Regions from separate parts of the Homo sapiens genome. Here regions 1 and 3 are each reported to be linked to region 2. Evidence: microRNA targets listed by miRTarBase, many of them from high-throughput screens and not tested one by one. Region 2 holds a microRNA gene; each other region holds the end of a gene's coding sequence.
The links. Region 2 holds the annotated microRNA hsa-miR-936 (ACAGUAGAGGGAGGAAUCGCAG, at 2,015-2,036, opposite strand). A microRNA usually pairs through its seed, bases 2 to 8, with sites in the 3' UTR of a target mRNA and lowers its output. Matches are read on the target gene's strand: a 7mer-m8 pairs with bases 2 to 8, a 7mer-A1 pairs with bases 2 to 7 and ends in A, and an 8mer does both.

Region 1 (3,071 bases), not on the chromosome of region 2:
GAACCACCACGCCCAGCCAATTTTTTAATATTTTTAGTAGAGACGGGATTTTGCCATGTTGGCCAGGCTGGTCTTGAACTCCTGACCTCAGGTGATACACTTGCCTCAGCCTCCCAAAGTGCTGGGATTACAGGCATGAGCCACTGTGCCAGGCCCCTTTTCTTTCCTTAAATGGGGATCTCCCACTGCCTTGGGAACGAGATAATCAAACCAATTAGAGCTATATGTAAAATGAAAGTAAAATAGGCCTGAAGGGCTGGCCCACAAGGACCCCATAAGAGCCCAGATTCCTTAACTTCCACTTTCATGTCAGAGCAGCCCCACTGCATACCTCTTTTGTGCTGTGTCCCAGATAAAGGAGTACATCATGTCACCGAGTTCTAAGTAAGTGGGGTGCACTGAAACTTTCAGTAGAAGCAAGATGCAAACACATACAAACATGTATGATGTTATTTATTTTCTCACTGGCACTGGCCTACTGCACTTAAACATTTCCATCAGACTCAAAAAATAATTTTATTTCAGAAAAAATATTTTACCTATTTAGCTTTTGTTTATACTGTTTTATTATTAATAGGTTTTTTTTTCTTTTTTTAAGAGATAGGATCTTGCTGTGTTGCCCAGGCTGATCTCCAATTCCTGGCTTCAAGCAATCCTCCTGTCTCAGCCTCCTGTGCAGCTGGGACTATAGGTATATGCCACTGCTCCCAGCTTGACTTAATGGAATGTGTTTTTATTCACCCATTGGAAAAGCCTTTGCTACATATTAATACAAACTTCTCATTAATAAACCCTCCTTTTTTTTTTTTTTGAGACGGAGTCTCGCTCTGTCGCTCAGGTACGATCTCGACTCACTGTAACCTCCTCCGCCTGGGGTCAAGCAATTCTCCCGTCTCAGCCTCCTGAGTACCTGGGATTACAGGTGCACGCCACCATGCCCAGCCACTAATAAATCCTTCTTTAAGTAAGAAAATAATATAACATGAGCATAACTTTGCATGAATTTTAATGTCCTGGAGGCTTGTTGCTTTGTATAAAGTGCAGGTCAGTAAAAATTAAAATGAGGTAATGTGGTATAATACGATTAACCCAGTAAGGGTACAATAAAGGATGGCTATTATTATTATTATATTGTTATTATTATTTTGAGACAGAGTTTTGCTCAGTCACCCAGGTTACAGTGCAATGGCACGATCTCGGCTCACTGCAACCTCCACCTCTGGGTTCAAGCGATTCTTCCGCTTCAGCCTCCCAAGTAGCTGGGATTACAGGCACCTGCCATCATGCCCGGCTAATTTTTTGTATTTTTAGTAGAGACGGGGTTTCATCATGTTGGCCAGGCTGGTCTTGAACTCCTGACCTCAGGTGATCCACCCACCTTGGCCTCCAAAAGTGCTGGGATTACAGGTGTGAGCCACCGCGCCAGGCCAAGGATGGCTATTATTTTCACATGAATTCAACTGAAATCACGATAGGGCAACACCAATAACAATGTTTCCTATATAGCTTAAAAACTGTTCTTTGTCATCCCCTCATCTACCCAATAGGGAATTAGAACTAGCCTGTTAGGTTGCTTGACAGGACCACTGAATGCTGGGAATCAACCATACTCTATTCTCTCATTTAACAGATGGGGAAGCAGAGGTCCAGGGAATTTGGGAAACTTGTCCACAAAGGGACAACTACTTTGTGGCTGAACTATGTCTAGGACCAGGGCTCTCTTTATCAACATGAGTATCTCCTTCCTTTATCTGCCCCTTCATGTTTACAAGGCACCTCCTCAGCTCCATGATTTTGTTTGTTACGCTACATCACTCAGCTCATGAAAACGGCTTTTTTTCCTCTTTTCTTGTCTTTGGAAGATTTTTTGCATTCTTGTAGCAGCTGATTCCATACTAACCTTTAAATTGAAAAAATATATATACACACAGACACGTATGTGAATATGTGGGAGAAACAGCACTAGGTCTCCCTGGACAACCCAGTGCAGGCCACACCTTGGCAGTCACAGAGCACAAATAAGAAATGATCTTCCCGTGTGAGTTGCTTTCGACACTTCAATGCTAAAGAGCTCAGAAGTGCTTACACTTTGAAAGAAGCCTGAAAACATTTGTAGGCTACCCTTTAATGTGTCTCATTTGGAGATAGAACAGTGAGCAGGTTGACCAGCTGCTCTTCATGTACTTCTTGCAGTAAATCCTTCAAAGAATGAAGAGTGAAGACAATTCATTTTCCCTCCTGGAATTTTTCCTTCTTATTATTTTGCTTTTTTAAAGGTTGTTATATTCAGGTATAGGCATAAGACATTATAAAAGATAAGGGGTATCATGTGAGGGAGGAAATCCGACAATCCAAAAAATCTTCCATAGAAATTAAAAATCAGAACTTGGGGGCAAGGTAGGAGGCAACACATTCTTTCTACAGAGCTGTGACACATAGCCCAACTGTCCTCAAAAGCAGGAATAAAAAAAATAAACAACAACAACAACAAAAAACAGACCTCAGCTGCATAATGAAGCTGGGGTCTTGGCCTGATAGCTTTTAATGTCCTTAAAACGGGGCTGGGCATCAAGCATCTTTTCCGGAATAGGCCAAGGAAGACAAGTCCAGTTTGGTTTTTAAGGCTTTAGTGAGCTCTGCGGCCAGCAGCTCATGGAGGGACACGCCGTCGTGGGAGTACACCCAGTTTTTCCCAGTCCAGTCATAACGCTTAGGTCCACTGGAAGACAAAACAAATGCATAGTAATTCCACAGCACAGCCCTTCAGATGAACCACTGATTCCACAAATGCTGCCCCCAAGAAATTGACTGGAGTAAAGCTCTAGAAAATAACACAAAATGAGCTAGTGTATATCTGCCTTCTTATCTTAGCATCTAAGAAGAGTTATACGATATATCTTCTGGAACAATTCCAAGAATGATTCTCAAAACCTGAAAAAACATTTGACCCTTACTGATAAGTCTCCAGGTATCACACTTTGATCTCCAGCTTTTGCTACCTCACATGTGATACCTGCTATGCTGGAGCAGTGTTTTAAAAATTAGGGCCATTTTTGTGCTACAGATGTAAC
Region 2 (3,140 bases):
AGTCCAATGCAGCATCACCCTCTTGCCTTTAACTACTGAACTCCTCTGTAAGAGCATTGGAAGCATGTCCCTATGAATTCAACTGCTGGGGGGCTGCTGCCTGATTTCATTTTCAATCTTTGCCTAATTTCTTTCAGGAAATTAGGGGATGAATGTAGTGATATGGGGGCACAATGGTCCAATTACAGGACAGGCTTTAACACTGAGGCTGTCCCAGAGAAACTGGGCTTTCCCGAACAAGGATGAGCGCCCATGCCCTGTCATGCCAGTGGGGGAACTTGGGCCTCTGGACTAACAGCTCTCCTGGCTAGTGGGAGCTCAGCTATGAGCTTGGGGTTCCTCTCAGATTCCTGCACCCGAGGGGAACAGGGCACAGGCAGACAGAATTGACACACAATCTAATCTCATTTCTACTCGAATGGTGTTCTAGATTGTTCTGTGCCTATTTTTCCTTCCTAAGGTGCTTCTCACGACTCATAGTGAAAGGGAGTGTGTGCCAGGGAGTTGGTGGAGGAGAGGAAACTCTGGTGACTGCAGGAAAAGCCCTGGCCCAAGCAGTTACCCCAGGAGAAGGTGGGAGACAGCAGGTGGGAATGATCCAGCGACTCACCCTGAGGTCCCTGGGGTCCTGTGAGACCTGCAGAAAATCAGACACAAGAGGGAAGAGTTGAAGGGTGGAGGCCATCCCTGGTAGCCACACCCACACCTGCAGAAACCGGTGGACACTGCAGTGGAGGGGTCAGTGGGTACAGAAGGACACGTCTCATGCCGGGGCAGCCAGCATCCTTGGACCTCTCAGCTCTGGATGGAGAGCAGTTCTTCGGGCTTTGCAGTGAAGCGACCCACCACTTTCTCAGGCAATGGTGCTGAGCCTATCTGGGTTCACAGACCCTTTTGGAATCTGAGGAGAGCCACAAATCCGGAATGCTCAACACTCACGGATCCCAATGCTGCCCCAGGTTCCCCCTCTATGGCTCCTGTCTGGGCACCCGCCAAAGGAGGCTGAGGAGGCCCCTACTCTCAGAGGCCCCCGATGAATGCCCACCCGCCTTGACCACACAGCTTTCTTGGCTGGTTTTCATTTGTTCTTCCTGCAACCCTGAGAAGTTTGCTCTTTGCTCTCGGTGGAGACTCTAACAATGGCTTCCTCCTCGGCCTCGTGGGTGTTGGTGAGGGCCCAGTACAGGAGAGGAGGACAAGAGGAGAAGGGCTCAGAGGAGCAAGATAGCGAGGTGACCTTCAAGTCTGCAGTTTTAAGAGTGTCCTTGCCCCTTTCTAGAAATCCTTATGTTTAGCTGTTAATCCCACTCTTCTGAATTGCCAGACTTAGTTACCCAGAGGTGCCAGGGCCTACAGCCACTGCACGCAAAACAACCTAACACTATGGCAGTTCCCTGCTGAGCTGCTGGAGGAAAACGGGATAAGGCACACATGGGTGCATTTGTAAACACCTGCATGCACACACACAACCATGCACATATACACCCCTTCCCCCACAACCTGCACACCTGCACATGCACACGCACACACATGCCTACATCCACACACACAAAGCACACACACACTAAGCAGGGCCATGGCTCCCTCTTCCTGCTCTGTTACCTGGCTTTCCTGGGTCTCCAGAAGGTCCTGGTGGGCCACGGATTCCAGGCATCCCAGTAAGACCTTGTTCACCTAGAGAGAGAATGGCCAACGTGGAAGTGTTTACATTTAGGAAAGCTAAACTGGTTATCACATCTGAACTGATAGTTTCTGAGGGTTTTCCTAATTGACTTGCTGGCAGGTGGAAAGGAGAAGGGGAACAGAACTGGACACTGCACACTTCCACATGCTATATGCTCCTCTGCACTATGGTTAAGGGGACTGAGGGCTGCATGCTGGAACAGGGGCTGTGACGGGAGTGAGGCTGGGGGCAGCAGATGAGTGACCAACCTCTTGGGCCTTGGTGTCCGTCTGGGCCAGCAGGACCTGGTAAAGTAGAAGCAAGGTCTCTCAGTTGCTCCTGGAGTGATTTCTGCGATTCCTCCCTCTACTGTCCCAGTGGCCTTGAAGCACATTGTGTCCCAGGAGCCCACGCAGCCATCAGCCACGGGACAGCCCTGTCTGTCACACTCTCTGGATACGGTACTCCCACTGCCCCTTCTCCTAAACCAGCAATTGTCTCTTTTCCTGTTGAGAATTGTTCAGTGCCTTCCCATTGCATCTCAAGCGCCTCGATGCTCAATGCTTGTCGCGTTTACTTGAGGGCCTAGAAGTCAAGGTCCTCCATGTTCTTGTCTCCTCTGCTCTAGGCATTATTGTAACCTCTCTCCAAAATGGTGGCCTTCTGGGACCATATCTTGCTCTTTCCCATTTCTTTGTCTTTCCCTGCTCGTGCTGTCATCCCTGCATGGAATTTTCCAGACTGGTCATGCTTAAAATCTTTCCAACTTTTTGGGACCACTTGAAATGCCCCCTCCTCCGTCCTTCCTATTGGAAGAAATCTCTCCTTTGACTGTATCCTCACAGCACTCTGTACCTTGCGTGACACTTGTCACCTCATGCAAGTCTTATCTCCCCTTGAGGGAGGTAAAGCATCTCATTTGCCTAGCACAGTGTCAGCACTCACAGCTGGGGAAGTGAACGAGAGTACACATGCTGCATCTCCACAGGTAAGGCTTAAACCCTTCTTGGGTTTGATCCTCAACATGGTCTTTTTTTTTTTTGGTTTTTTTTTGAGAGATGAATTCTTGCTCTGTCACCCAGACTGTAGCGCAGTGGTGTAATCATGGCTCACTGCAGCCTCCAACTCCTGAGTTCAAGCGATCATCCTGAGTCCCAGGGATTACAGGCGTGAATCACTGCACCTGGCTACCTCTGAGATTCTTGGTCAGTTTCTGCAGCCAGGCTGACAGGCACCTCAGGTGAACAAAAGGGTAAAAACCTGGATTTGGCCATGAGACTAGCCCTGGGATTCCTGGAACACTTGAGGCTCCTAAGGACTTCAACACTGTCTTCCCCAGGGGAGTGGGGAGCTCACAGGCAGCTCTTAGGTGAATGGACCATGCCCTGCAAGGCCTCTCCCAAAGTGGAAAGAAACCCACAGAGGTACCTGCAGCTCTCTGATCCCCAGAAAGGATGCCCAGACACAGAAATGACTG
Region 3 (3,071 bases), not on the chromosome of region 2:
ATACCAACTTTAAAATCTGTGTTCTACAAATGCCCAGGTTAGAGATTAGGACTCTTTATAACGGCCCTTATCTTTTACATTTGGTAAAATATTAAAGATATTGTCAAACAGACAATTCATCTAATAGTCCAAAGTATCTTATAAAGATAACTTATGACTAGCAGGTCACCATCATATATAGTAACAACGAGAATATAAAGTCTACATTTAAAAAGATGGATGCATGCAGTGTATCACAGTATATTACATATTTTCTAGTCATGTGCACCAATTTGTTGAGCCTCACACACAGAAACAAATATGATACTACACCATACATGTGTATATATCATAGTAGCATAATAAACTCAATTCTAAGCAAGAAAAAAATTAAATAATTTAGGAACAATAGAACTTCACAATAGAAGTGATGATTCTTTTAGGTTTTTCTTTACTCTTTAGGAAAAAATATGACTTTTTGTAAACATCTTCATAGCTATCTTTTTTTCAACATATTACTGAAAACTTATTCAAATAGTATTTAAATGACATGAATAAAATATGTCTTAACACACTAACACTTTCAGAAAACACAGGCATTTGTTAAAAGAAATGATTATTATAAATATTTTCTATCTTGCATTTTAACTGCATTTTCATAAATAACGTATTTAAAAGTGCTGAATATGGTAGGATAGTCAGCAACGCCAGTGTAAACAGAATATTTTGTTTTCTACTCTGCAATTTTTAAAAAATCCCATTTTGTCAAACACTGCAACAGTTAAAATATTTGCATAGGGAATAGATAATAGCCCTTTTATTCATGTCTCCTGAATTCTATATAAATTAGAAAATCATACTTGCTTAAAAAAACCATTTTTGAAATGTTTTAAGTTTATGGAAAAAGAAACTTGTGATGCCAACCTTTCAAGTAAAATAAATTTAAAAAGAAACCCCCAAACTTGTTTTTTTAAAAAATATGTTTAATAAATTAAAAAATGAGAGGTAGTTAAAAAAATGACAAAGAAAACCTGTAACTGTAATATCATCCTTAATATAAGGCCAGTGTTCTCAGTGGATATAAATCTTTTTAAAACTTTCATTTTAGGTTACTCAGTATTATATTCATTCAGTTTAATATTAAAAAAATAGTCTTCAGGGGATATTAATATTCAAATGTAACACTTTGATATAAATATGACACTGATTATTTTAATTATCACTTTTATGCATGACAGAATATTGTTTCCTTGAAGGTCAGAAGTACATGACAATGTCAGGCAAGTGTTTTGTCGTAAAGATTTAGTGTACTTATAAAAAATAATATGGCAGCTGGAAGATTTGAGCACTGTACTGCCTTTTAATGATGGATGAAAACTAATAGTTTGGTTTAAACATCTTTAAAATGTCATCCTTAAGATATTATGTGAAAACAGTTAAGGTCTGAAGTAGAGGATTATTTTCTTCATAACCCTTATAAAACTTTTCCTGGTAAAAACTTAGCTTTTCATTGGATTTCACTTTCAAGGAAAATATGCCACAGGACAGATGCTATTCATCAAAATGTTTTACAGTGCTACATGTAGGCATTCCTTTATTAAGTCCTTTTCTTTATATTCCAAAACTAAGTTATCAAGCTTATTATTATTTTTTTCTTGCTGAAGTACATAACTTTACACAACCATTTTAAAACTGGAGAGCCAGTCTTTAATAAATTAATTACAGTATTGGACATCTGATATATACATAAATTCATTTTCTTCTATTACAGTTAAAAGCAATATCACTCTTTTGATTTGTCATTGAGATAGGATATCTTCAAATTGTTTTGTGCTTTTTTCCTTCTTCCCTTTTTTTTTTTTTTTGTTTTTTGCTTTTAGCATAGTAAACTCTCCTGTAATGAAAATGCCACAGTTTTGGCAGTGAACAACCAGAGGAATCCCCATTAGGATTTTCCAACAAACAGAGATAAATAGCTCTTTTTCATGTACAGAAATATTGGCTTCAAAATTAGTGTACTAAACACAGTATATAGAATGTTGAATACCATTGTTACATAGTAAAAATTGCTTTTTTTCTGTCTTAGATTATGTTAAAAAATGCAAACCATGGCCGATTTTTTTGGCAATTATTTCTTAAGACCATATTGCACAAAAGTCCTTAAATACAGATATAAGTTATGCTACTGGATTAAATATTACAACAACTATGTGGCAAATGAAGCATTTTACTTTGCACATGCAGTCTCTGGAGATACACGAGGAGACTGTTCATAGGACTACAAATACACTTTGCTTGCAAGTAGAATGAGTCTTGAATAAAACAAACAATTTGGCAATTCATTGTTTTGTGTGGTATTTTCTCCAAACTTAACCATGGAAAACCTTGATAAAAATGGAGACAAAGACCATAACGGTTGTGTTTTCACAGTAGCCTGAGGAATGCTAAACTGTAGTTCTCCAGGAACTCAGTTTCTGATGTTATTTAACTACTTTTATTTCCCATCTCAGCCCTCCAAAATGATTGTTTTTAAATGAACATTAAGATTCAGAAGAAGAGCCAGCAGTACTTTCAACAAATGACTTATAAATTTGAGAGTTCAAAAACCTTGGAAAAGAATCTCTGTGCATTAAAGTATATATCTGAAGTTGGGCATCTTCATACATGTGAGGATTGGGATCCAACAGATTTCTATTGATCACCTCTCTAACTCGAGAATCAAGACTGACCTAAAAAGAAACAAGAGCAAATACATTAAATAATATTTTTTTCAAAAGACCTCAATTAAGTAACTGTAGGTTTGTGACATTTTAGAGAAACTTTAAAGAGCAAATCCAACTACCAAAAGTCTTGGGTTCATCTTTTGAGACTACACAACCTTATGTACTTTTCTCCTTCAAAATTTGCACTAAATAAAAAAATCCAATTAAGTCTTTTAAACCAGAAATTTAGTTTACAGATGTCTTTGCTTACTTGGTTTTATGGTTTCTATGCATTCATTCAGGAGTTTTTGACAATTTCTAATCATGGTTGAGATACCAGAAATTTCCTAGCCAGAATGTGAATTCACCTCCTGCTATTCTGTGACTGGG

Region 1: the mRNA of FXN is a reported target of hsa-miR-936. Seed matches in the 3' UTR shown: 8mer at 408-415.
Region 3: the mRNA of RGS17 is a reported target of hsa-miR-936. The part of its 3' UTR that is shown has no 7-base or 8-base seed match.

What each region holds. Positions count from the first base shown.
Region 1 is chr9:69,072,260-69,075,330 of GRCh38, reverse strand. It overlaps FXN (frataxin), which reads right to left. Exons shown (of 5, transcript NM_000144.5): 5 at 1-2,719. The coding sequence ends at 2,569. Among named protein-coding and RNA genes, the nearest start is that of FXN, 38 kb to the right of the region's middle.
Region 2 is chr10:104,046,137-104,049,276 of GRCh38, forward strand. It overlaps MIR936 (microRNA 936), which reads right to left and starts at 2,050; the gene lies at 1,953-2,050. COL17A1 (collagen type XVII alpha 1 chain) reads right to left here. Exons shown (of 56, transcript NM_000494.4): 30 at 1,933-1,968; 31 at 1,603-1,674; 32 at 611-637.
Region 3 is chr6:153,009,055-153,012,125 of GRCh38, forward strand. It overlaps RGS17 (regulator of G protein signaling 17), which reads right to left. Exons shown (of 5, transcript NM_012419.5): 5 at 1-2,708. The coding sequence ends at 2,520. Among named protein-coding and RNA genes, the nearest start is that of MTRF1L, 7.9 kb to the left of the region's middle.